Linked DNA regions of Homo sapiens. The protein of the gene in region 3 purifies or fractionates together with the protein of the main gene of each other region. This does not show direct contact. Each region holds a gene or a part of one and is shown on either strand. Other genes may lie near its edges. The genes, in order: CNOT1, CRACD, CAPZA2 and WASHC5.

Region 1 (7,026 bases), on a different chromosome or scaffold from region 3:
GCCAGACGCGGTGGCTCACACCTCTAATCCCAGCACTTTGGGAGGCCAAGGCAGGTAGATCACTTGAGGCCAGGAGTTTGAGACCAGCCTAGCCAACATGGTGAAGCCACTTCTCTACTAAAAAAATACATAAATTAGTGGGGCGTGGTAGCACATGCCTGTAATCCCAGCTACTTGGGAGGCTGAAGCACGAGAATCAGTTGAACCTCAGAGGTGGAGGATGCAGTGAGCCAAGACTGCACCACTGTACTCTAGCCTAAGCTACAGAGTGAGACCCTGTCTCATGAAACATTAAAAAAAAGGCAAAAAACAACCAAAAAAAATCATTAAAGCAGTAAACAAATTATTAATCATGATACCTGAATTATTAACCATGATATCTGAGACTCAAAACTAGTAAGTGAATTATTTGAAAAGTGTGTGCACATGCAACATCACTTTAAGTCATTTTGTATCGGCCTTCTCAAACAGCTTTCATCCTTCCTGGTTAACAGAAATGAGATTGTCAGATATCACATTTCCTTTTTAAATCTTAATTTATTTAAACCAACAAATATTTGGGTATCTACTATCTGTCAAACATCGTGTTGAGAATATAACAGAAAAAAAAAAAAACACACAGACATGATGCTTTGCCTCACAGAATTACAATCTAAAATGATGGAAGACATCAAACAAATATGGTGATTATTAAGAATAAGTGGTAACGCCCAGTGCCATATATAGACAAAGAAAAAAATTATTACAGACAAGCAGTAATACGTTTTGTACCTATACCAAGGAAATAGCCAACTTACACGAAGGGCTGAGGCAAAACTGTTTTTTAAGTTGGTAGATATGCTCATGAGCAAAGGTTCCCTGCATGTAATCATAGCCATTCCAGCTGTCAAGTTACGCATCATGTGATGAGCTGCTATTCGCATTCGAGATTCCTCCGAATCCAGGGCAAAATCCTTCCTGACTATTTGCTCACAAGTAGTCATGGCAATCTTAATTGATCGATCCACCACAGGATGGACCAGCTCCTGGACAGCCCGTTCAATTGCCTGACGCACACACTGCTTCAACTGTGGATGGGCCTGAAACAAGGGAATCTGGGGGGTTGGGGAGGACAAAGTCAACACCTTGTTTAAATAAGACAATCCAATTCCTACTGGCAATCACATTCATGATTTTGTAAATCAAGATTAACCAAAAACTACCAGTTTCTACTTAAAGTTAACCAATGGAAAATTCGGGTAACAGAAACTGAGCTCCATACAGGGAAATGTATTCAGTATACCCTGTGATACACAATAATAGATATGTCTTTTTTTTAAATCCAAGTTTAATGGACAAACTGTTCATTACAATATGCATTAACTACTTAAAGACACACTGCTGGCTTATTTAAAATTTGTGGCTCAAGTGCTCTTAAAAGAAAGCAACTTCTCCACTAGCTTGGGAAAATGTAAAAAGAATAAAGTTTATAGAAAAAAGACTTCTTACAAAAACTATTAAAATTAATTCATCAGAATAGTGAGCATTTTACAGTGCCCACTGAAGTATTTGGCTTCATTTGAAAGGCTGTTTCTAATCTTTTATTGCAGGTGTAAATTATGCCCCAAAACTTACTTGGTCCCTTTAACTTGTTGAATTAAAAAAAAAAAAAATTAAACTAGCATATAATAGTGTTCACAACACTAAGAGTATTCTAAAGATGAATCACAATTTCTGGATCTAGGTGTCCCACTGCCTCTCACTCCACCCCTCTAAAACTAAGTACCATGTCTATAGGAGTGGGGATGGGGGGACAAGGATAAAATGATTTCTCTGATACCCTTTCAATTCCTTTTAATAAAAAGTTCAATGTATTAATGTTACTCTTGTATTTGTGAACATTTTCAGTTTCTAAAAAGTAAGGACAATGAAAACTCCACTCACCTGATTCTGTATTATATATTCTGTTAAGTAGAATAAAAGACTAAAGATAACAATAAAATGTCCCCTTGAATGTACAAAGCAAATACTAACTATAGGAAAAAGGACTGATCAGAGGTCATCTTACATGACCATATTGTATCAGACCTCCTTCTGGAACCAGGCCACAACAACATAACTCAAAGTGCTAAGTCCTACTTCAAGATCTTAGCCTAGAAATTGTATACACACCCACAATCAGCTCATTTCCAGCCTTCAGGTGGAAGAAATGGCTTACTGCAGAAGGCTAAAGTGACAAGATAAAGAAAATAAAAAGCTATGATATACATTAAGCATCTTTTACTCTGTGTAAGGAATTCCTGGAGATTGTGATTTTATTGCTAGCTAAATTTTAGTATCATGGGTTTGGATATGAGGAACCAATATAACTAACATCTAGTCACTCTATCTCTTAAGGGAAGAAGAACAATCCCAACTGAACTACACAGCAGTTCTAGATCTCCATCCTCTCTGACAAACTCTACAACCTAGGAATCCAGAGGGAAGGGCAAAGAGCTGAAGAAAAGGTGGCCAAACAAAATTTACCTTATCACAAACTAGAAGCTGGGAGAATGGAGCAGTGTTTACTTACTGTTGGATTCAGAGTAATGTGTGGTGCCAAGCCCGCAAGGGAATAGACATTGATGTCGTGGTAGCTGTACTGTGGCTGTGGTGGAACCGTGGCTGTACAAGTGGTGTTGGTAGCTGGTGTAGTAGAAGTTGCTAAATGTCAAGTAATAAAAAGAGATTTAAAAAGTACATTTGTTGACTTTATTATAAAATTAGCTTAATATCATTAAGTGGTCATTATCTAATTAAACGAATTAAATTGGGAGAGGAGGGAAGGATGTAGCAGGTCCTATTTTTCCCACCCTGAAAGGGAAATTCTGTTGTTATAACAGAGATATACACGAAGTATGTTAAACTATGTCAGTGCCAGTGCCCCACAGCACAGAAATCAACTGAGCAGCCATGCCATATTGTCAGGCCCAAGTCCTATAAACTTAGTCTATATTATAAATGTATGTTTTCAACCTAGCCTGTTCCTAGGTTTATCTGGGGATTCTCAGCTGCTGAGGACTGAGAAAGAAAGAAAAGCTCAATTTATTCTAACCACAACTCCCAATCATTCAACACTCCCATACCCTTCTCCCATCTTCTTCATGTAGATAAAACAGTCCCATTCCCTTGGCAGATCTAGCAGGTCTGGCCATACCCAGATTTGAGGGGTTAACAGGCCATCATAGTATGCAGTTATTTCTGGGACTTCACACAACAAAGGAGATAACCTGGCCTAGCTGGGGTATGAGAGGCAACTGATTAAATCACATTTAGTTAATAATATGCATGAACTGTCAGGATGGAATCTAAGATGGTAACACAAGGCCTAGTCATTACTTCTGCTTGATAATTAGAAGGCTCACCAAAACGTATACAAAGTTTCACCACTACATTATGTGGGAAATTATAGTTTGCGATATACATGGACAAGTACCATTTAAGATAGTATCCTAGCTAACAGAAGCCTTCCTTGACTAATTAGCACACTTACTTGTGGTTGTGATGGGAGGGAGTTCTTCTGGCTGCTTGACATCTTTCTTTGGAGCAGAGAGTTGCTCATCTAAATTCTTCAGGCGATCTTTATCCTTTAGGAGGTTTCCAGGTTTTAGCTCATTGATGTCTAATGCAAGGTTCTTGCAGAGAACCTCGATTTCAAACTTCAAGTTTAACTGCACAGTTCCAGAGTTGGATTAGAATTTTTAAAAGAAAACTTTAGTTTTACTCATAATATACTCTACTTTCAGTTATTATAGTACTTCCCCCGAAATACCCTGCCTTCACTGTAAGTTTTAATAATGTGAAGGCAAAGAATGTTCCAGAGGACAAGGAAGCAGTAAATTACCTTTAAGTCATGCTCCTGATGTAGCTCAGCTAATACATTCATAATTGCCATTGTCCAAGGGTTTGGTGGCCTAAAAACCTAAAGAAAAGCTATTATGTTAAGCTGGCCCAAAATGTGCCCTTTAATTTGGATTATTTAAAACAATTCAATACAACATAAGGGGGTAGGGGGGAGTCAAACAAATAAAAAACAAAAAACAAGGATTAAAAAATAACCAAAAACAGTTAAACATAGTTAAACACTTATACCTCTGTAGCCATAACAAAACCCCTAGCCTTCTCACCTATATCACATTTCAAAAACAAAACAAAACAAAAAACCAAAAACCAAAGCCAACCATTATAATCTTTCTTATTTCACCCAGCCTCTCAAATTGGAAATCCAAGTGCCATAGAGGAAAACAGACTTAACTAGCTTTACCTCACAAGAACTAAGAATATAATCTCTTGACCTCATGCTAAAACAAAGCAATGCTTAGAAATTAGTCATAAATAAAATATTAAAATCTACTCACCACACTACGAATGCTAGATTCTAAGACTTTGGCAACAAAGGGCACTACATAGAGCAATTCTTGTTGTCCTTTAACATAAGCCTCTAGCAGCAATGATTTCACATCCAAGTCCTAGAATAAGAAAAATACTTTCAAAAGCGGGGAATATACCCCCCAAAATGGTATAACAAAACCAAAGAAAAGTATTTTGCCAAGCTTATCCCCAAAACAGGAATCAACATAATGTCTAGTCCTTGCCTTACAAAAAGGGGTTAACAACTCAAAACGTGGGCCAAAATCTTACAAAACCCCAATAATCATTAAATAGCTCCAAACAGCCAATACTTGTAATCATAATGTGCTGAAGATTCTCAATTTTTACACATTTAGATGAAACTCACAGTGTGTAAGATGGGTTTGTTTTTAGCTAATGTGATCATTCCTAGCCAATGTCCCAAGTTCTTCAGCAAAGAACGATCTGAGAAATTGGCTGCAGCTTTATCAGAGGTCAGGAGCACCTGAAATAGTGTAAGATTAAGAAAGATATGAGAATAAGCTTATGAAAGAAAACTCAACTAAGTATTTGAGAATTCCATTATCCTATCCTAAAGACAAGTCATCATTTCTAAGAACAGGCCCCAAAGTAGAATTACTCTGTATATCATTCTCAATATCATTTTGCTGTGTTTATGATTCAACAGTGCTATTTTTACCTTGAAGAAGTCTTTACATTTTATTTTTTCAAAATAGGTACAAACACATTGCACAAAATTCAAAAAGAACACAAAGTTATGTGCCAGCTATCCTCCCCTAGAAAAGTATTTTCAACTCTGAAAACCTTAGCTAGGTTTAAAGCAGAGACCTAACTACAAAGCTATTTTGAAGTGCTAAATTAATTTAAATGAGGATGATAGCCATGCTTAAGTCCTTAAAGGCAGCAAGCATACAAAGGAATATAATCAAATTAGCCTCCTATTGCAATCTTCAGTATACCCAGGTCATTAACAAATCTCTGCAGCCAACCAAGATAACTTTCTGAGATATAGTATAATACTGTTTATATACTTCTTTTCAAATTTCTAAAAAACCCAAACCATTTAACTGATTCTCCGGTTACTGTTTTTCTAAGGGGGGGCAGAACTAACATAGGAGAGTGTTTTGGCTGCAGGTATGCACACATGTATATACCCATCTACTCTGTGGTACCTCTTGACTTAGGGCTATATTTAAACTTCTGTTTAAAAAACATGGTCTTGAAACTTTGCTACAGAGTATGTGGAAACTTTTATGTATCCCAACCACCCTTGCTATCAGATAATAAAAACGAAATAGAGCCATGTTCCTTAACTCTATACAGCAACAGCAGAATGGCACAAGTCAGCTGTGCAACAGAGAGCCAGGAATTCTTTTGCACTACAGCGTAACCAAGAATGGGGAATATTCCCATCCACAGGTTTAAATATAGTGCTGGTTCCTAAGCCAATGACCCAAGTTATTGAGCAAAGAATGACCACAGCTGTATGCTGGTTCTAGAAGTTTTTCCTCCTAAGAAATAAATGATGGTTTAGAAATTAAAATACTTGAATTTTGTTGAATAAGCCTCAGCTCAGTAGAATTTGACCTTAAACTGCACAGACTCCTAGACAACAGCTATTCCACAAACAGATTTAGAGTCTAAAGATATCTTGCACTTGAATACTACAAGATACAAACGAAAACATTCAGGACAGCATTGTTTATAATAGTTTAAGTGATTAACAACACAAATGCCCAGCAGCAATACAAATACATACAATGGTTTTCTACAAGACTATATTTTTCTGTTTTTTAAAAAAGAGGACTGGCCGGGCACAGTGGCTCAGGCCTGTAATCCCAGAACTCTGGGAGGCCGAGGAGGGTGGATCACCTAAGGTCAGGAGTTCGGGACCAGCCTGGCCAATATGATTAAACCCCGTCTCTACTAAAAATATAAAAATTAGCTGGGCATGGCGGTACAACTATAATCCCAGCTACTCGGGAGGCTGAAGTAAGAGAACTGCTTGAACCTGGGAGGTGGAGGCTGCAGTGAGCCGAGATCGTGCCACTGCACTCCAGCCTAAGCAACAGAGTGAGACCACATCTCAAAAAAATTGAAAAAAAAAAAAAAAGGGGGCTACAGCAAAGAGCATTATCATTATCATGAATAATATCCAGGGGAGAAAAAAAAGTAAGTGAAAAAAAAAGAAAAGGATGTACAGAGGGCGACACCATACAGAATATGCTAACCAATACTATGCTGCTTATGTATAACAGTGGTAAAGTTCTAAAATCATGCATGGCATGACAAAAACAATTCATAATAGTGGTTACTTTCAAAGAAAAGGCACAGGGTATGCCTATAAATTTAAGTTCTGCATAAAATTTAGTTCCATATAAGAAACAAAATCTACAGCAATTTCCAGAGGTACCTAATATTGACAATATATATGGAAAAATAGCAAAAATCCTACCTATATAATCAAATATTTCCAAATTCAAAGCAATAATTAAAGGAAATATAAGAACCAACTCTTACTTTAATGTTTCTGTAGGTCTCATTCAGAACCATCTTGTTAAATTCAGGATTCTTCAGCGTGTCAAGGAAGTTTGAATACAGGCTATGAAAGTTTGGCTCAATACTGACTCTCTTCAT
Region 2 (7,026 bases), on a different chromosome or scaffold from region 3:
CCAGACCAACACTCCTCAGGAAACAAATCATTCCTCTGCAAAAACTGCCCCAAATCTAAATACTTGAACAAAGGAGAAAACAATCCCTCCTAAGAAAACCTCAGGGGACAATTTCTCTGGGAAATGTGAGTAACTTTTGGCTTTGACCCATACTTTACCTCCTATACTCTGCATAATAGAAAAGAAAAAGTATTAGATGAAGGTTCTCTGGGGGCACAAAAGCTAATCCAACTGACAGCTTTGTTGGCCCAAACATTTAATCTGAAGAAACATCAGGGTCAGCCAGAGGTAAGGCTTGCTCCAAAATTTCTTTGTAGGAGGGCTCTGCAGTGGTGAGCTGGGTGAGGGTAGGGGGTGGGTGGGGGGATGGAGGGACCCAAGCTGCATTTGCAGAGCATTTTACATAAAATGGAGACAGTCAATTATCCCATAGAGAGGATCCATAGGTCTGATGGAGACACCTAAAGTCCCCTAAACTGCCATCATGGTGCCACTACTGCCCAGAGATACAGTGAAGACACTGGTAGGGGACACTCCAGTTTTATCATCACTGCGAGGCCCCCTCAAAATGGTTAATGACATCTTCAGTCGTTGGGATTATTATTTCAATTTCTATTGCCAACCGAAAAGGCATTCATCTAACTGTTGGCACCTTTTATCGCTTGTGTAAATAAGTATCATTATCAAGAGTGAACTGCAGACACACTGCAGAGTTGGTCAGCATTTCCCAAATTTGAAAGAATGAGAAGTAACAAGGCTTACTATGAATCACGAGTGAGTGTCTTTCGGGAATCCCACACCAGCCTCTAATTAATGAAGGTGTGCCCAACACCAGCTCCACTGGCTGCCTCTGGCGTTGGGCACTTCTGGTTCTAGCAGTGACGTAGTCAATGAGCTGGACAGAGGCAGACAAGGAGCGCAAGGACCACCTGGTGACCATCAAACAGACCATCCAGAGGCAAAACTCCTTATCTGGGGAATTCAGAATTAAACTTCCCTAGTATCTAACATAGGCATCTGGTTCCAGGCTTTTCAACTTTTATAACTAGAATTTCTAGACATCTCTGGAATGTCATGGCAAAACTCATTTTGCAACCCTTGCTGACATTAAGGCACCAAAATGTCCACAAATGTAATCATTTATCACGACCTACGTGGCTAATGTGGCCCAAATTACCCTTCCAATTACCCTTAAGCTCTCGACTTAAGGTCCATAAATGCTCCTAAGGAAAATCCACCAGGGCACTCAGTCCTCTCACTGAGGCGCCCCACGGTTTTGTTCTGCAGCGTTCTAATAAAACTTTCCTTTTTCAAATCTGTATTGTTGGTAAATTATTCTCATGAACCTGCGTGTGGATCTCTTCTTGATGCCCTGGCTCTGACACCTCGGCTGGCAGCAGTTACCCACCCTGCAGCTACCTACCTTTCCTCCCGGCCTCGGGTGTTTGAGAAGGTTTCTCTTGCTGAGTGGCAGGCAGAGGTGGGGAAGCAGGTTTCCTCTCTGTCGCCTCTTCCTCCTCGTCCCTCTTCTGTCCCTTCCTTTCCTCGGGGCCTGGGGGCGAGGGTGGCCGGCGGTCACTGCTCTCCTGGTCCTCCTTGGACGGCTCACTTGGCTCTGGGTCCGGCCTCCCCGCTCGGCGAGACAGCAGCTCTACCAAGTAGGGCCTGCTCAGTTTGGAAAGTGGGGATGCTGGTGGGGTCTGACTGGTGGGCTTGGGAGCCAGTGCTGGCTTTTGTGCCAGTGGCATTTTGTTTGCTGCCTTGTCGTGCTCCGGAGCCGGGGTCTGGCTGCTGGCCGGTGGAGGCCCAGGGTGGGCCACAGGAACAGAGCGGCTGCTGGAAGGTTCAGCGGAGTCCCTCCGGGTGGAAGGGGCTTGCTTCCGCTCTTGGGGGAGGGATGGACCATGCTTGAGGGCCACACCCTCCATCTCTTTCTCTCCACGAGCGCTCCCCGCTGCAGGCGGCCCTGCATCCGCGCTGTCTCCGGTGCTGCTGTGCCTCTTCTTCTTCTTCTGTTCTGCCTGTTGGTCGCAGTTGAAGCGCAAGGAATAGTTGGTCCTTCTCAATTTTATTCCAAACGGTGAGGCTTTTTCCTCTCCACCTGGCATCACAGGGTCTGGCTTTGCTATCCCGTTTGCAGTCTCGCTGTCCGACGAGGTCGTGAACTCTGTGTGGGCCACCACTTTCTGCGGAGGGTAAGGAAGGCTTGGGACAAGGAAAGACGGGAGGTCTTTGGCAAATTTGCATCCCTCGGTGGTGTCTGCGGGCTCCCGGTGCATCTCCGACTTCTCCGGACCCTTCCCGAGCTCGCGAACACCAGCAGGAGGAGGCTGGGGGGCTGTCTCTTCGCTGGGTCCCAGCATGGGTCTTTTTCGTATGCTTTCAGCTTCCGTGCTCTGTTTGGAGGTCTCCGTGCCACCATCGGAAAATTTCTGCCAGGCAGGCATAATAGAGAACTTTGCATTGACTGGCGGAGTCTTCCGTTGGTTCCCGCGGGAATCACACCGGCCCCTGGGAGTGGACTCATCACCGGGCCTCAACTGGTCCCTCTCGCTGCTGCGCGGGTCACTCTCTGCGTTCTTCAGGATTCTGGACCGAATGGAAGCCCATTCTGCGAGTGCGGACGCGCTGCTGGGAGACTCCTGGCGGGGCTTAGCCTTCCCGCTGCCCGCCCTCGCGTCGCCGGGGCCTCGGGGAGGGTTCTCCCCAGCTGGGGCTTCCGCGTGCTTCTTCTCCTCCAAGCCCAGGAGGGACTTGCACGCGGTGTCCTTGATCTGGCTCAGGTTGACTGCCGGGCCACAGAGCTGCGCGCCCGTGACCAGAATGGCGGTGTGGGGAACGCTCAGGGACGACGGTAGGGCGTGCTGGACTGGGCTGGCTTTGGGGGCCTTTGGTTCCTGGGGAGCAGCGGTGAGCCCCGTGTCCTTTGCGGGCGTCACGGGGCTCAGGTTGACTTTGGGAAAGAGAATCTGCTTCCCTCCGGAGGACACCTGGAACGTGTAGGGCCGGGGCATGGTCTGTCTCTCGTCCACCTCCTGCCACCGCAGCTCCTCCACCTTGCGGCCTTGTTCAAGGGCGGCGGCTTCTTTCCTCTCCACCGGAGGCTGCGCGGCTTCCACCGGCCCCTCTTGTTTCAGGAGAGGCTCCGTGTCCCCTTCTTCTCTCTTTTCCTCGGGCCCAGGACGATCGGCCCCCTGGAAATCCCCGCTCCTTCCCTGCTGCTCTCTTCGCCGCTCGGCCTCTGGGTTCTGCTCCTCGCAAATACCTGGCTCCTCGGAGTGTTCTCTTTGTCCTTCGGGTTTCAGGCGTTCCTGGTCTTCGAGCCTCTCCTCAAAGTCGTTCAGAAGCTCACTGAGCTGCCCCCTCCAGTCCTCCAGGTGCGCCTGGCCCTCCTCCTCCTCTTCCCCCAGATCCTCCTCCTCCGCGCCCCGCCGGCCCTCCCCAGTCTCCTCCAACGCCTCGGGCGGCCCCTGCACCTCCGCCTCCTGCTGTTCCAGCTCTTCCCATCCCTCAGCCTCCTCCTCCTCCTGCCTTTTGAGCTCCTCCGCGCATCTTCCTTCCTCCTCCTCCTGCCGCCTCCGCTCCTCCAGCCTGGCGTCCTCCTCCAGCCGCCGCCTCTCCTCCGCTTGGGCCTGGGCCTGCAGACGCCTTCGCTCCTCCTCCGCCTCCAGGCGCTCGCGCTCCTCACGCTCCCTCCGCTCCGCGTCCTCCCAACCTGGCGCTTCCAGGCTCCGCTGCTGCTCTTCCCGCGGCGCCCTTTCCGCCTCTAGAGGCGGCTCCTGCCCCTCGCCCTCCTCCTCCAAGAGCTCCTGCCTTCTGTTCTCTTCCCAAAGCCTCCTCTCCAGCGCCTGCAGCCTCTGCTCCTCTAGGCGTCTCTTCTCGGCTGCTTCCGCCTTTTGCCGCTTGCACTTGGCCTCCAGTTCTCGCCAGTAGTCTTCTTGGCGTCTTCTCTCTTCCTCGGAATCCAGCGGATTGGGTTCCTCTTCGTGCCACGTTGGCTTGTCCTCGCCTGGGTGTCCGTTCTGGTCCAGGCAGGGCCGACTCTCAAGGCCGCCTTGCTCATGTTGTGGATCCTAACATTGGAAAGGAAAACACAATTAGCCTTTTGCTTTCTCCACCCACAGTCGTTCCTTTTCCTATTCACAGTGCCAGCGACCCTCTTAATTTCTCAAGAACACCTGGAAGCAGGTATTCTCAAGTTCAGGGATAGCTAAACTCAGGCATCGGTCACCCCACGCAAGACTCTGTCGTGCGAATGGAGAAAAGGACGTGTATTCTGTTTCCGCGCCCCCCTCCCCACCAGCTCCTTTATTTGTCATTCCCTAATTCCTTTCCTTAATATGAACAAACGAGGAAAACCAATATTCAAGCATTAGATGAGCAAAAAGAGACTTGGACTTCATTAATGTCCCCTGGAGCTTGTGACTTGGAAGCCTATCCTAGTCAAACTGAGGGAGCATTGGCTAAACCACTTTTCCACTGCAAAGCAAACACAACGGGTCTGGAGCCCCTCAAAAGGCAACCGCTCCCTCTGAGGTCCACCAGCCTCATGCCAGAAAGGGCGAGGAAAGTAAACAGGCCTGTGTATTCCCCAACACCGCCACACACTCAAGTTCCCGATGGGGAGACTCTCAGGTCTTTACATGGCTCCACCCCAATGCCAACCCACTTGTAGAATTAGTGCCCAGTAGGCAAGGGCACCTGCCTGGTCAGCCCGTGCAGGCTCTACACACCTGGGCAAGGCGCCTGTGCTTCTTTGACACCCTCTGTTTTTTTGGCTTAACAGCCAGCTTGTGCTTGGCGGCACTGTTGTCCAGGCGAGCGATGGCCAGGGGGATGGCATCTAAGTTGACACTTTCGATGGTGCCAGCAGAAGAGAAGTGCCTTTTTGGCCGAGACGGTTTAACGGGAGCAACCTGTAGGGGAGATTAAAATAGAAAGTCAGTTGGGATCAGAAGACAACCTGCAGGGAATCGCAGAACGGTGGCACTCGTTCCAGTGTGCGCCTCGCCCAGCCTGGCCCAGGGAATGCAGGTGAGCAGAGGGAACTCCTCAGAAAATGAAATGAACACCCGTTTTGGAACCAAAGGACATTGACTATTTGTTCTGCCAGCGTCCACTGGTATTAACTTGTAAAAGTCATATAACTTTTAGGAACTAATTTTCCTACTTTGACTAATATGAGGTTCAGAGTAGCTCCAAGATTAGCAAAACATAGCCAGGAGGCCAAATCCTGCCCACAGCCTGTTTTGGAGAATCAGAGTTTTACCGGGCCACAGCTACACCCATTGTCTTTGGTTGCTTTTTGTGCTATGAAGGAAGAGTGGCACAAAGGAGAGTACTTGTAGCTTCATGTCACAAAGCCTAAAATAATGAGTAGTTTGCTGACCCCTGGCCTAGATCACCTCTGTGCTAAGAACTGTTAAACTCTCAGACACTGCATATATGCCTCAGCTCCTACACAGGACTTAGTCCCTTTGAGGCTGGGAGTGTGTCTTTTTTCATCTTTGTATGGGTACCCTTTACACCCACGTAGCAAACCTCATTTGGTCAGTGCTCAATAAATATCTGTTGAAGGAATAAAGGAAAATAAAGTATAGCATCTATACCTGGAACACGAAATTCCTGATCGACAAAAATGTTTTGGTATGGCTGGGTGCGATGGCTCACACCTGTAATCCCAGCACTCTGGGAGGCTGAAGCGGGCAGATCACTTGAGGCCAGGAGTTCGAGACCAGTCTGGCCAACATGGCAAAACCCCATCTCTACTAAATACTTTAAAAATAAATTAGCCGGGTGTGGTGGTGCACACCTGTAATCCCAGCTGGGGAAGCTGATGCATGAGAATTGCTTGAACCCAGGATGCGGAGGTTGCAGTGAGCTGAGATCGCTAGGCTGCACTCTAGCCTAGCCCACAAAGCAAGACTCTGTCACACACACACAAAAGTTTTGGTACAATCGCTCCAAAGAAGTCTCAGGGTACTGACTGCACTGAGAAGATAAAAGGAAGAGGGACCTGATGAGAAAAATGAGCGGCAAAAATCTGCCACCGGGACAAGTGCGGTCCTTCAAAGGATGAATTGTGGAATGGCCTGCAGCTCTAGAATACAGATGCAATCACTAAAAAAAAACACAACCTCAGATGAAGGGTAGATTTGGAAAGATCAGAGAGATCGTGACACAGCCCGAACCCACAGGCCACACTGAATTAGAAGGTAGGACACCACGCCTGTACCTACAGAGAATTCACAGGCTGGCAGCAAGCAAAGGGCTCCTGCTAGAGTGTGGCAGGGGGTGCGGCACTATGCCAGCAGCTCCGATGTGGCCAGGGTTTATTTGTTTGTTTCTGCTGTAGGCATGGAGTGGTGAGGTTTAGCAGATGGGCTTGCTTTTTGCAATTATCTTCTATATGCACAAAAGATGAAAGACCAAGCAGCTAGCTCTAAAAGCAAAATGGATGCTCAGTATATATTAATTTATGACAAGAAGCACAGAAAAATCAAGTTTTGGCCTTCTAGCTTTCATTTATTTATGGTTATCTTTATAATGGGCATGAGATTCTAAGCTATTGCTGAATGAAACATTTGTTTCCATCCCCTAATAGATGCATGAGAAAAAGGAGTCGGAGCCAAATGTGACAGATTGAAGACATAGATAAGCACTTGATGCTGAGATTTAAGTGCTGTGCTTTGTTTCTAGCTATCCCAGCTGGCTTCCTCATTGTCTGGGCGGCAGCACTGTCTTGAGCCATCCCCTTCTTCAGGAGCAGATCCTGCTTCCTATACTGTCTGCCAGGCCTTGGGAGAATGCCTGGCCCCTTGTGCAGATGAAAGGTCCTCAATGGGGCAGATCGGCTCCTACAGAAGAGGTGCCCGGGGAGAAGAGTCCACAGGGTTCTTACACTCCTGCAGGTAAAGTCCCAGGTTTAAAAAAAAGGACACAGAAAAGTTTAAAAAACAACATAAAAGTAGAGAAATGCTAAAGTGCTTTTTTGTTTTGTTTTTGTTTTGCCTCTCTAAATATAAG
Region 3 (7,026 bases):
TCCTGCCTCAGCCTCCTGAGTAGCTGGGACTACAGGCATGTGCCACCATGCCCGGCTAATATTTGTATTTTTAATACAGAAGGGGTTTCATCATATTAGCCAGACTGGTCTTGAACTCCTGACCTTAAATGATCCACTTGCCGTGGCCTCCCAAAGTGCTGGGATTATAGGCGTGAGCCATCGTGGCCAGCCCACCACTTTTTTTTTTTTTTGGGACAGAGTCTCGCTCTGTCGCCAGCCTGGAGTGCAGTGGCACAATCTCGGCTCACTGCAACCTTCGCATCCTGGGTTCAAGCGATTCTCCTGCCTCAGCCTCCCTAGTAGCTGGGACTACAGGCACACCACCACGCCCAGCTAATTTTTGTATTTTTAGTAGAGATGGGGTTGCACCATATTGGCCAGGATGGTCTTGATCTCTGGACCTCATGATCCACCCACCTCAGCCTCCTAAAGTGCTGGGATTACAGGCATGAGCCACTGCGCCCGGCCCACTTCTTACATTTCCAGGTCATTCTTTCTAGTTCCCCTACTTTAACACACCTATAATCCACTGGTTGTACATTTTCACTATCCCTCCCCCCGTCTCAAGCCCTCACTTCCCTGCTTACCCAGCTGAAATTCCACAGACCATCATCATACCCTGCCCCTCTTCATGTGGTCATTCACTCTGGGCAAAACCACAGCCCTGGTGAAATTTATTTCATCTACTCTATGCCTGCACCCAAACAGCTTTACACGGTTGAAGAAAAACATACAGCCATGCTCATCATTGGTCTCATTTACTTTAAATTCATTATCACTAACCTTGAGGTCCTTCATCCTGTCTGCCTATAAAATTGTTTCCAGGTTCATGCACTTTCCCATTCTTCTAGCCCAGAGCTTTCCTCTAGTTCCTGTCTCCTGTATCTAACTGCTACATGAGATATTTCTCCTTTGAATAGAAAACTGAGCTCCTGACCAGCCTTCTTCTCCAAACCAACTTGCTCCTACAAGAATCTTCCTCAATTTCTCCAGCCCCAGACATGGTTCTCTTTATCTCACACTCCATGACCAAACTCTCCCCAGGTCTTGCTGATTTTACCTTTAGGATATACCTAGACCTCACTGCTTTATACCACCTCTACAGCAACCACCTCAGTCCAAGCCAGCATGCTCTCTCAACTAGATTACTGCAGTAGTCTCCTAGCTGTTCTCCCTGATTATGCCTTTGCCACCACACTTCAGCCTACTCAGCAAAGCAGCCATAATGTCTCCTACTAAAATTACATCCCTGAGCTATAGGATACTCTGGGTTTCCATTCTTCTTTCACTTTAATAAATGCCATTCTTTTATTATTATTATTATTTTGAGACAGAGGCTCCCTGTGTCACCCAGGCTGGAGTACAGTGGCTCGATCTCTGCTCACTGCAACCTCCACCTCCCGGGTTCAAATGATTCTCCTGTCTCAGCCTCCTGAGTAGTTGGGATTACAGGCGCGCATCACCATCCCCGGCTAATTTTTTTTTGTTTTTAGTAGAGACGGGGTTTCAGCATGTTGGTCAGGCTGGTCTCGAACTCCTGACCTCGTGATCCACCCGCCTCGGCCTCCCAAAGTGCTGGGATTACAGGTGTGAGCCACTGTGCCCTGCCTAATAAATGCCATTCTTATACTATAAAAGACTATTCTGTGCCATCATTATTTCAGACTGTTCTAAATTATATTATTATTATTATTATTATTATTTTTTGAGACAGAGTCTTGCTCTGTCACCCAGGCTGGAGTGCAGTGGCGCGATCTCGGCTCACTGCGAGCTCCGCCTCCCGGGTTCACGCCATTCTCCTGCCTCAGCCTCCCGAGTAGCTGGGACTACAAGCGCCTGTCACCACACCCGGCTAATTTTTTGTATTTTTAGTAGAGACAGGGTTTCACTGTGTTAGTCAGGGTGGTCTCAATCTCCTGACCCCGTGATCCACCCGCCTCGGCCTCCCAAAGTGCTGGGATTACAGATGTGAGCCACCGCGCCCAGCCTGTTCTAAATTATTTTTGATAAATCTTCCGTCTCACAAGCAAATCACCTTAAAAACAGTTGCATACATTTTCAGTAATGCATTCCAGACTAGAACAGAGATAGGAAATTGATGACTTTCATGGGATAGAAACTCATGATGGCCTAACTGATACAACTAAGCTTGTCAATTAGATCTAGTATTTAGTTCACCATCATCAAACTTTCAAATATATATATTTTAAAAAGGAACAGATAATTAATGTTACCAATTCATTTTCTTTAGGAATCCCAATGTGCCAAAACTTGTATTTTAAAACTAAAGAAAAGATGATTTAGACAAAATGTCATAATTTCATATTATATTCTCAATGCTTTCAAAGCCCAACAGTGATTTTAAAAAGAAATTAAACAACATGCTTTCATTGAATTTTTAAAAATCTATACAATTCAAGCTAATGAAATATTTTATTGTACATAATAAAAGTGGTGTTTTTCTAAAAAAAAAAACAATAAAATAAAATAAAAAAAAAATTTCCAGGCCCAGACGTCTGTGGGAGTACGTGAGGAAAGGATTCCACTCAAGTATAATCAGCAATACTCTATTGAATGAAACCATAACTCCACTTCACTCCCTATGGTAAATACTAACATTCACCACAGGCTTGAAATTCCTGTAGCATCAGTAGAACTATTTTTGAAAATATTACAAACATGCTTATGATGCATAGGAGGATGAAAAAATTTAGACTGTAACCGCACACCATATGTAATCCCAGCTTTTCTAATTTACAACCAGTTAAGAATTACAATATCCAAAGAAAGTATTTTAAAATATATATGCTCACTGGTAAGTGATTTTCTACTCAAATAAATAGGAAAATTTGCATTTTAATGTCACATTGAATTTCAGTACTTTTCAATCCAAGAAAAAAAAAATAAACCGAGACATGGTCATGAGTTCAGGATTATATATATTACAATTTGCCTTGTTATAATACATTTGTGGCTTTATGATAAAAATAACTCAGGGACATATGGAATTCAAGCTGATTTGCGTAACTGTCACAAGAAAAAAAGCATTAAATGCATTTCTGAAATAAGTATTTTCATTAATTTCAGAATCTCAAAACAGCATTAGACCTTGCCTTGTTTAAAAAAAATTTAGTTCAACACTAAGCTAGCTAAATAACCTTCTTGAAAGGTTTAAACACAATTGATATAGAAAATGCTTTCCCTCTAATCTCAACTTTACATAAATGGAACAGGTGAGGAAGAAAAGGTAGACAATTTCTTTAGCAGCATATATGGCTAAATCCATCAACCACCTTAAACTAGAATGTCCATTATTGACCCCATTAAAAAGAACTGGGGAAATATCAAAAATTACTGATTTCATAAACCAAAAGACATCAATTTTAGGGTTACAGTTAGTAAAATATTTTTGAGACACTTCAAAAACTTTTAACCATAAACTAGAAGAATCATCTCTTCATTGTAAGAAAGAAAGGCCTAACAGAAAGACATTTAAACTAAACTGATTTTCAATCCTCTTAGAACAAACAAAATGAAAAATAATGGTTGATTAGCTAAGCTTTGTGCTCTAATCAAACTAATTAATTACAGTGATTTTAAATGGCAACAGCCCATCTGACTGGGCAGCTTGACAGTTCAGAATACTTTTGCAATGATTTTTTAACGCAAAGACACTAAAATGATCCGGTCATGCAATGTTCATCTTATGCATTCTGCATCTCTTTGCCAATCTTGTAGCTAAGGATCTTGTTCCAATCAATCTTAGTGCGTGTAACTGGCAACTGTCGACGTAAGGCTTTGAAAGTAGTGTCCGACATTGTCTGATAATTCTCACTGATGGCAGTCTATGAAAAACAATAGTTAGAAGTTTAAAGTAAAGCAAAGAACAGAACAATTTATAAAGCACATAGATGTTTTCAGAATAAGTTTTATTTAAGCAGCCTGTTTCACTGTTTTTAAACAGTCAAATAAAATCCCAACATTGTTTTAAAAGCTGTTTAACAGCAGCTAGAAGAGCCGGGCGCGGTGGCTCACGCCTGTAATCCCAGCACTTTGGGAGGCTGAGGTGGGCGGATCACGAGGTCAGGAGATCGAGACCATCCTGGCTAACACAGTGAAACCCTGTCTCTACCAAAAATACAAAAAAAAATTAGTCGGGCATGGTGGCGGGCGTCTGTAGTCCCGGCTACTCGGGAAGCTGAGGTGGGAGAATGGCGTGAACCTGGAAGGCGGAGCTTGCAGTGAGGCGAGATCGCGCCACTGCACTCCAGCCTGGGCCACAGAGCAAGACTCTGTCTTCAAAAATAAATAAATAAATAAATAAAATAAAAGCAGCTAGAAGAAAAAGCCTATAATAATTTTGAATAAACTTAATGAAATAAAACTATAAATTAGACTTAATATTTGTGTGTCATTTTGAATTTATTTTAGTATGTCAGAACAATTTATAGATTATTATTTTTAAGGAGTAGAAACTTGTCCAATTCACAAATTAAATGGTTCAATTCAAGAGTGTAGTTTAGAAGCTGATAAATAATATAAAAAGTAAAGCACAAAATGAAATGTGATCTAAACAGATTACACATAATCCAAATGCTAAGACACAGCCTGAATTAAAATTTCCAACCAGAAAAAAAATAGCCACTTAAAGTCTGGCATATTTTGACTGATACAGGTTGAGCATCCCTAACTGAAAAATCCAGTTTCCAAAGCTTGAAACATTTTGAGCATCAACATGACACTCAAAGGCAATGCTCACTGAAGCACTAATGCAGATTTCTAATTTTCAGATTATGGAAGCTTGACTGGTAAATAGATAATGCAAATATTCCAAAATCCAAAAAAATCTGAAATCTAAAACACTTCTGGTTCCAAGCAACTCAGATCAGAGATACTCAATCTGCACTCAGAAATTATGTTGGCCAAAACCTAGTCTTTTTTTTTTTTGAGACGGAGTCTCGCTCTGTCACCAGGCTGGAGTGCAGTGGCGTGATCTCAGCTCACTGCAACCTCTGCCTCTCAGGTTCAAGCGATTGTCCTGCCTCAGCCTCCCGAGTAGCACTCGTCACTACAGGCACATGCCACCACACACAGCTAATTTTTGTATTTTTAGTAGAGACAGGGTTTCACCATGTTGGCCAGGATGGTCTTGATCTCTTGACCTCGTGATCCACCTGCCTCGGCTTCCCAGTGTTGGGATTACAGGCGTGAGCCTCCGCGCTCGGCCTAGTCTTAGTATTTTGAAAACACAAACTATTAATGGAATTCAATTTACTTGCCACTCTTTTTGCCTACACATTAGTAAGTCTGCCTTTGTGTTAAAAGCAGACACACAACAAAAAGACTCTAACTGATGCAATGGAAAAATTCAGCCTTTGGCTGAAATTAAAATTTCAGTGACATTAATTCATATGTGAGTGTAGCTTATATAATATTTAAAAAATCATACCTGGTATTCATTTTCTGCAGCTTCTACAATCTTTATAAATTCTTTTGCTGTTTGCACTTCATTCTGAAAAAAAAAAAAACAAAATAAAAATAGTAATTTAAAACTAAACCACTATTATTTTAAAATATATGTATGGTTAATGTAATGTTATAATAAATAACACAGAAGGAAATTATGACATAGAATAAATATTGTAAGATCAATTATTCTAAGTCTAAGGGGAAAATAGGTAAAATTATTTTAAAAGTCTACAGAATAAGCTGGTCTCAATGTTCAGCTGGCTAAGGAAAGTGAAATCTCAATGATACACACATGGATGAAAAGTTCAATTTTAAACACTGGACATGCATTCCAATAGACAACCTTTATGGGTAAGAAGTTTGGTAAAGATTTCTAATTGATGACTCTTTATCTGAATATTGTTAAATATTTACTGAACATTACGTAACAGAACAGTGATACCAAAAAAAAAAAAAAAATCACTAATCAGGAAGAATGTATTTTTCTGGAAATTTTTTTTTTAACATGCCAATAGATGGGTTTGTTTGCTTTTTCCTAACAGTAAAGTTAACAGAATCTGGATTTAAAAAATAAAACAGTGTTAATGTAAAAGTCTCTAACACCTTATACTTTATATATATGGTGTAAAAATATAAAACAATGAAAACCTCCTAAGATAGAGTAAAAATGGTCATTCCTAAAAAAACGAGCACAAACTGGCATATTAGTCAAGTTTAATTACTATGACCATCTCTCAAAACCGTACCCTCTGTACTCTTGTGGACAAATTTCTCTTAGGAAGCATCTGTTTTTTTTTTTTGAGACAGGGTCTCAGCCTGTAGCACAGGCTGGAGTGCAGCAGTGTGATCTTGGCTCACTGTAATCTCCGCCTCCCAGGTTCAAGCAATTTTCATGCCTCAGCCACCCAAATAGCTGGAACTATAGGAATGTGCCACCATTCCCGTCTCATTTTTGTATTTTTAGTGGAGATGGGGTTTTGTATTTTTAGTAGAGACGAGGTTTCGTCATATTGGCCAGGCTGGTCTCGCACTCCTGACCTCAAGTGATCCACCTACCTCAGCTTCCCGAAATGATAGGATTACAGACGTGAGCCACCGCACCCATCCAGGAAGCATCTTCGCTCAATGTCAAACTCCCCAAACAAGACGGCACCATACCCTTGTTATGTCAATAATATTGAATGTAGTAATTACATATGATATGTAACTATATGGAGAACATCTCATGGAAAATCAGACATTAGTAAGTTTTTTTCACTGGCAAATTTTGCAAGGAGAGTACCAATTAGGTCAAAGCAGAAATCACCTAAGTGCTAGTAAAAATTTTTTTAAAAGATAGCTTCAGGGGCTGGGTGTGGTGGCCCATGCCTGTAATCCCAGCACTCTGGGAGGCCAAGGCAGAAAGGTTGGTTGTGGCCAGGGTTTGAGACCAGCCTGGACAATATGGTGAGACCCCATCTCTACAAAAAATAAATTAGCTGGGCATGGTGGCACACGCCTATAGTCCCAGCTACTAGAGAGGCTGAGGCAGGAGGA
Region 4 (7,121 bases), on a different chromosome or scaffold from region 3:
TGCTATAAAGCTTATTGTCTTAAGCCACTGGGTTCTGGCATAGTTTATTATGCAGCAATAGATAATGATCCTAATAATGGCATCCCAAGCAGAGGTTACAAGTAAGTGCAAAGGCCCCAGGGCAGGAATGTGCTAGATGGCTAGCAAGGTGGCTAAAGTGGCTGGAGCAGAGTCAGCTAGGGGCGGAAACAGAAGAAGTAGACTGGATTGGATCTGAGAGCCAAGAAGCCACTACAGCTGTCTAGAACTCCCATGAAGGTACCCTGTAATACACATTAAGGCATACATTATTAACAAGTTCTTTTAGTTTCCTCTGTGATACTTGCTTGTTAAACCACACTGATCTCTAACAGGCTGAATTTCAGATAATTTCATTTCATTTTCTGCATGGATATGGTCTGGCTTGGGAAAGCAGAGAGGGAAAGGGGAAATAATGGACAGTGGGCAAAACAGTCACATACTAAAGCCCTCTGAAGACCACCAAACTAACCCAGAAGGTCTAAGTAGGATGAAACTTTACACCAGGAGTGTCCAATCTTTTGGCTTCCCTGGGCAATATTGGAAGAAGAATTGTCTTGAGCCACACATAAAATACACTAACACCAAAAATAGCTGATGACCTTAAAAAAAATCGCAAAAAAATCTCATAATGTTTTAAGCAAGTTTACAAATTTGTATTGGGGCACATTCAAAGCCATTCTGGGCCGCATGTGGCCTGCAGGCCTCAGGCTACACAAGCTTGCTCTAGACTCATGAAGAGGAGGACAAGCTATGATTAACAGGTCCAATGGCTACCCGATTTGGGATACCATGACAGGGCAACAATGTGGCCCTGGGAAAAACAACTTAAAGCAAAGTAACATTACTTGCCCTTTACTCTACTCTCTCCCAACATACAGAAGGACAGACAGACTCAGCACCTGCATGCACACATTCGGGGAAGCTTCAGTCTGGGATAACGACAGAGATCAAGACTTTCGTGTGTCAATCTCTTGTTTTAATCCTTAGTCCCTTACTCAAGAATTACGCTGTAGACAACTTTAAAAGAACATGAGGAGGATAATAATAACCAAATATGTTCGGCAATAGTAAAACAAATATTATGGGTCTTTATTACCTAGGTAAATCACCTTTCTAAAATTCTATATATAAACTTTATATTAAATTTTTAATGCAAAAGCATATGAGTTATATTTAATATACTTTTACTGAAATGAACTCACTGCTTGTAATCTGTTTTGCCCCATGAAGGGCACTTGTGTTTTCTATTTCTAATAATGCAAGCATCTCCTGCTAAGTTTTTGAAGATGGAAGAAGTTAAAACAAGATTAGCTGAAAGAAGGAAATCACTTAGTTACATTTTATGTACTAGACCTCCTAACCCGGACTAGTTATATTTTCCATGTAACAAATGGAATTTCCATAATTTGTACAAATATAATTTGGCTAGAGTATTTGGTAAATAGCCCCCTCGTTGGCTGAAGGACTAGTCCTGAAGAACAGAATCTAAGAACCATCATTAAAAATGCCTAATCAAGTTGCAGCTAAGAGGTAGGTGGATGGCTTTACAAAGTGTTAAGACTCAGCTAAGTCTTAAAAAACCACTTTAGAATTAGGTCCAAATAAACACTGTAGAAGAAGCTATGTTAAATTATCCTTTCAGAGGTTCTCTTGGTGCTAGGGATCAAGAACACTTGAAGATCAGTTTTCTCAATACAGGCTATATTATTATTGGCATGAAATCCAGAGATCCCACTATATTTTCTTATTTTCTTTTACAAGTGCCGGTAACTTCATTTTTAATAATTTGGCGTGGAACTGTGATTTTCAGTTTGGGAAGTAATCCTAATCAAAAGACATGCTTTCAAGAATAAGGCATGACATCCTTACACCAATTACCCTGAGTACAGAATAATATTTCTTAAGGAAATCGAATTGTCGTGGACAAACAGTTTACCCTCTTCAGAGGACAAAAGAAGGCAGGTCTATTTTTAGCCTTTCGCAAAACCTCAGTTCCATAAAGGAAGCACTGGTCTCCACAAATCCATTATCACAAACAAAATATAACGGTTGCTGATCAAGATAAATGCAAGCTGCATATATTTTCCAGAAAAGTTCTGAAATGAGGCTGAACCTGAAATCCTGGGAAAGGCAGGTGAAGGACAATTAGAGAAGGTGTCCCTTGTAGTGCACAAAGACAGTAAAACTTCGCCCTCACTACGCCTCACCTATGTTTGAGGGAGCTCCATGCGCTTGCAATCAGGAGACCCAGTTTTATGGCTCTGTGACTTTTTTTCTTTCTCCTGTCCGATCATAATCCTGATTCCGATCCCAGGAATCAGGGCCCTGGGAACTTTTTTTTTTTCCCCCAAATGCAAAGGATTTTGACATCAGTATGTCACAGGTGAAGGCATTAAGGCGCGGCGAGCAGCAATGACTTGCCCAAACTCACAGCCCATGGCATAACTAGAATGCAAATCCACGTCTGTCAGCCTGTAAAAGTCCTCACTACTAGCCTTTCAGTTTTCTCAAAAGCAAAGAGAAATAACGACGACATCCATACAGCAGTGTTCCCGGAAACTTGGAAGGATGAGATTCGGACCAAGCAGCTGAACGGTGCTTCCTAAAGCGAGGAAGGGGTGTGCAAAATGATTTCCCCCTAAGCGGAGACGAAGAGCTGGATTACAGCCCCCGCCCCAGAAAGCCCCTAAGCCCTCCATCCCGAGTCCCCCATCCAGGCTGCACGCGACTCTGCAGACCTCCCCGTGGCCAGCGCGGCCCAGCGGGGAGGGGAAGGGGGCCATGCAAAAATGGGGCGCGCTCACTCCATCCCCACTCACCTGTCAGCCGGGCCGCGCCACGGCGCACGCGCAGGGCCGGAGGTCGCGCGCGGAGCCGGCACCCAGTTTCCACCCCTCCCTCAAGGCGGCGGTCCTCTTCTATCCGCAGTCCCGGACCTGGAGCGGGTCAGACCCCGACTTCCGCCCCTGACTCCCCAGGCGGTCACATGACCGAAGCGGCTGGGAGCAGGGAGGGGCATCATGTGACCACTCGCCGGCGACGGCTGATGACGCAAGAGCCCGCTCTCACTTTTCAGCGGCAGGCGAAGGGGGCTGAGGAAAGGAGGTGGGTCTAGGCAGGGGAAATTGGGGTGCCACCAGACGGAGACAGCTTGGACTACCAGGTAGGGAAGAAGCGGGGGACGGCAATGGGGAGGGTGGCAGGAGTTTCGCCACCCTCAGGGACACTCCACGGGGACTCCGAGCCGGGGGTCCGTCTACCCGGATTATGGTTGTGGAACTTTTCACGCCACGGTAGTGAGTCTGGGACAGTTTACCCTCCTGTCCGAGACGCCATCTCTCCATCCTTTCGCCTCAAGTGTGTAGGGGCAAGATTACGAATTTTTGATCCAAATAGATTTTGTTTGAACTGACTTTAAAAGTAAGGCCACGGGAAGGTCGTTTGAATAAACTCTCTGGACCTCAATTTCCTCTTCAGTTATGTAGATTGCAGTGAGAATTAGCGATAAGGAGAATAAAGTGCCGGGACACCAGTTTATGGCATTCTGTAGGTGACCGAGAAATGATGATGTCTGTTGTTATTTTTGTAACTGGCCAAATCTTTATTGGTCCCCTATTTTGTGTGAGGAATTGCTTTATATGCAATAGAATATGTCAGGGTTCTAGTTTAAGGAGGTGTCAGTTTAAAGAAGCTGCAGACATGTGAGCAAATAGTTGTGATGAGTTTCATAATAGGAGTGTGTTGTGTACATGTGCATGTGATAGGGATAATGGTAGCATGAGGGAGGGAAAAGCAATTGTATGAGAAGGATTCAGAGAGAAGGGATTATCCTTGCATGTTGAAAAAGGAGAGGCAGCTCTGGCTGACTTGTACAAGGCTCCCATGGATTTAAAGGAAGTCAACATATTGTCTATAAATAACATGCAGAGAAAAAACTCAGGAAATGCACAACTTGTTCTAAACTTTCTTGGAGATCATAGGTACCGGGAAGAAAAAGATCAGTGTTATTACCTGGGGAGGGATCCAAGAGAGATTGATTTAAACCAGTTATTCTCAACTGATGCACTATTGACATTTTAGGCCAGATAATTTTTTGCTGTGGGGTCAGGGTGAGGGCTGTCCTGTGTTTTGTAGGATGCTTAAGAGCATCCCTGGCCTCTGCCCGCTAGATGCCAACCACAAAGTCTACAGATACTGCTAAATGTCCCCTTGCGAGAGGGGTAAAATCCTTCTTGGTTGAGAACCACTTAAACCAAGCCATGAAAGATGGTATCTTAGTCAATGTGGGCTTCTGTAACGGAAATGCCATAAACTAGGTAGCTTATGAACAACAGAAATTTATTTCTCACAGTTCCGGGGCCTGTTTCCTGGTTCATAGGTGGCTTCTTGCTGTGTCCTCACATGGTGGAATGGCAAAGCAGCTATCTGGAGCATCTTTTAAAAGGGCACTAATCTTATTCATGAAAGTGGGCCTCATCACCTCCCAAGAGGCCCCACCTCCTAATACCATCACCTTGGAAGTTAGGATTTCAACATATACATTTTGGGTGACACAAACATTCAGACTTTAGCATATGGGTAAGATGTGGGCAGATAGAAAACTGAAGAGAGGCCCTGGCACAGTGGCTTATGCCTGTAATCCCAGCACTTTGGGAGGCCAAGGCGGGCGGATCACTTGAGGTCGGGTGTTTGAGACCAGCCTGGTCAACATAGCGAAACCCTCTCTCTACTAAAAATACAATAAATAAATAAATAAATAAATAAGTAAATAAATAACATAATTGGTGTGTCCTGGCACACACCTGTAATCCCAGCTACTCGGGAGGCTGAGGCAGGAGAATCCCTTGAACCCAGGAAGCAGAGGTTGAGGTGAGCCGAGATCATGCCACTGCACTCCAGTTTGGGCGACAGAGCGAAACTCTGTCTCAAAAAATAAATAAATAAATAGAAAGAAAACTGAAGAGAAGGTTTTCTCATGGTGGGAGCAGGATGAGGAAAAGTCCTCTTTTTCCTTTTTGGTGACAGCGTCTCACTCTTATCGTCCAGGCTAGAATGCAGTAGCATGATCATAGCTCACTGCAGCCTTGGACTCCTGGACCCAAGGAGTCCTCCCACCTCAGCCTTCCGAGGGTCTAGGACAATAGGTGCAAGCCACTATGTCTGTGTAAGTTTAAATTTTTTTTTTTTTTGTAGAGTTGGGGTCTTGCTGTGTTGCCCAGGCTGGTCTTAAACTCCTGGCCTCAAGCAATCTTCCTGCCTTGCCCTTTCAAAGTGCTGGGATTATAGGCATGAGCCACCACACCCAGCCTGAACAAAGTCTGGAGCTGAGATTAAGAATATTGGGTATGAAGGGGAGAAGGAAACAGGAGAGCTATGAATCTGACTGAAGCAGACAGTTAATTTATTCATTTATTGACTATTTTCAGAGCACTTGCTGTTTGTGAAGCACTGCTAACATCTTGCAAGATAGTCACTAACAAAGTGGAGTGACTATAATTATAATTATATCAAAGAAGGTGCTGTTAGAGTCAGAGAAAGGAGTTGTCTTTGACTTGTACTTAGCTGTATTTATTGGGAGAGATTGAGAAAAGTATGTCTGTTCCATCTTTCTGCACCATCCATTGCCTTTGCTTTTCAATTCAATCTCAGTCTTAATCTTTTCCCTACTCCAGAATTACAGAAGAGCATGATCGTGTTTTCCTTGGTCCTCTGCAAAAGTGAAGTTTCACTAAAGTAATGTGAGTTTTGCATTCAAACAAATAGTGACAGCTACTGTTTGGTAGATACTTTCCATTTATACTGGATTGCATTAATCTTCATAGATACTGTGTCTTTGTTCAAGCTACCATAACAAAATACCATAGACTGGGTGGCTTAAACAACAGAAATTTATTTCTTACAGTTCTGGAGGCCAGAAGTTCAAGGTGAGGTTGCCAGCATAGTTGGATTCTGGTGAGGACTTTCTTCTTGGCTTGTAGATGGCTGCCCTTTTTATGTGTCTTCACATGGTAGGGAGAGAGAGAGAGAGCAGTCCCTGGCGTCTCTTCCTTTTCTTTTCTTTTCTCTTTTTTTTGAGAAAAGAGGGTCTCGCTCTGTTGCCCAGGCTGGAGTGCAGTGGCGTGATCATGGCTTACTGCAACCTCAACCTCCCGGCTCAAGCGATCCTACCACATCTCCTCCTGAGGAGCTGGGGCTGCAGGCCCGCACCACCACATCCAGCTAATTTTTTATTTTCTGTAAAGACAGAGTCTCACTTTATTGCCTGGGCTGGTCTCGAACTCCTGGGCTCAAGCCAACCTCCCACATTGGCCTCCCAAAGTGCTGGGATTATAGGCATGAGCCACCTTTCCAGCCAGGTTTTAGATAATCAGTACACATGTGCCTAGTGCCTATCATATTGGACAGTGCAGATTATAGAACGTTTTCATCACAGAAAGTTCTATTGGACAATGCTGCTCTGGACAATTTAGACTTACACTAGAATCAAGACTGAGTAGAAAACAGAATACTTCTGCTGATCATGGTGTCTCATGCCTATAATCCCAGCACTTGAGAGGCCGAGTTGGGAGGATCACTTGAGCTCAGGAGTTTGAGACCAGCTTGGGCAACACAGGGAGATGGTCGTCTCTACTAAAAATTAAAAAAGAAAAATTGGCCAAGTGGTGGCGCGCGCCTGTGGTCCCAGCTACTTGAGAGGCTAATGTGGGAGAATCACATGAGCCTGGGAGGTTGAGGCTGTAGCGAGCATGATCATGTCACTGCACTCCAGCCTGGGTGACAGAACAAGACCCTGTCTCAAAAACAAAAAGAAAACCGAGGCCAGGGGCAGTGGCTCACGCCTGTAATCCTAGCACTTTGGGAGGCCGAGGCCGGTGGATCACTTGAGGTCAGGAGTTTGAGACCAGCCTGGCAAACATAGTGAAACCCCGTCTCTACTAAAAATACAAAAATTAGCCTGGCATGTAGCTCCCAGCTACTGGGGAGGCTGAGGCAAGAGAATTGCATGAACCTGGGAGGCGTAGGTTGCAGTGAGCCAAGGTAGTGCCACTGCACTCCAGCCTGAGGGACAAGAGCAAAACTCCATCTCAAAAAAAAAAAAA

The links.
Region 1: the proteins of CAPZA2 (region 3) and CNOT1 purify together in Homo sapiens (affinity purification with mass spectrometry; 5 studies listed by BioGRID and IntAct, with this or other methods). This does not show direct contact.
Region 2: the proteins of CAPZA2 (region 3) and CRACD purify together in Homo sapiens (affinity purification with mass spectrometry; 5 studies listed by BioGRID and IntAct, with this or other methods). This does not show direct contact.
Region 4: the proteins of CAPZA2 (region 3) and WASHC5 purify together in Homo sapiens (affinity purification with mass spectrometry; 5 studies listed by BioGRID and IntAct, with this or other methods). This does not show direct contact.

The regions. Positions count from the first base shown.
Region 1 is NC_000016.10:58,542,810-58,549,835, forward strand, and holds part of CNOT1 (CCR4-NOT transcription complex subunit 1), read right to left. Parts: coding exon 6,910-7,026; intron 5,825-6,909; exon of another isoform or gene 5,690-5,824; intron 4,874-5,689; coding exon 4,757-4,873; intron 4,488-4,756; coding exon 4,377-4,487; intron 3,941-4,376; coding exon 3,863-3,940; intron 3,690-3,862; coding exon 3,512-3,689; intron 2,683-3,511; coding exon 2,552-2,682; intron 1,095-2,551; coding exon 798-1,094; coding exon of another isoform or gene 576-797; exon of another isoform or gene 344-575; intron 1-343.
Region 2 is NC_000004.12:56,311,087-56,318,112, reverse strand, and holds part of CRACD (capping protein-inhibiting regulator of actin dynamics), read right to left. Parts: intron 6,906-7,026; exon of another isoform or gene 6,505-6,905; intron 4,917-6,504; coding exon 4,734-4,916; intron 4,074-4,733; coding exon 1,424-4,073; intron 1-1,423. UniProt on the Homo sapiens protein: Involved in epithelial cell integrity by acting on the maintenance of the actin cytoskeleton. Positively regulates the actin polymerization, by inhibiting the interaction of actin-capping proteins with actin.
Region 3 is NC_000007.14:116,914,567-116,921,592, reverse strand, and holds part of CAPZA2 (F-actin-capping protein subunit alpha-2), read right to left. Parts: intron 5,534-7,026; coding exon 5,471-5,533; intron 3,867-5,470; coding exon 3,726-3,866; 3' UTR 1-3,725. UniProt on the Homo sapiens protein: F-actin-capping proteins bind in a Ca(2+)-independent manner to the fast growing ends of actin filaments (barbed end) thereby blocking the exchange of subunits at these ends.
Region 4 is NC_000008.11:125,088,775-125,095,895, forward strand, and holds the start of WASHC5 (WASH complex subunit 5), read right to left. Parts: upstream 3,019-7,121; 5' UTR 2,841-3,018; intron 2,624-2,840; exon of another isoform or gene 2,229-2,623; intron 1-2,228. UniProt on the Homo sapiens protein: Acts as a component of the WASH core complex that functions as a nucleation-promoting factor (NPF) at the surface of endosomes, where it recruits and activates the Arp2/3 complex to induce actin polymerization, playing a key role in the fission of tubules that serve as transport intermediates during endosome sorting.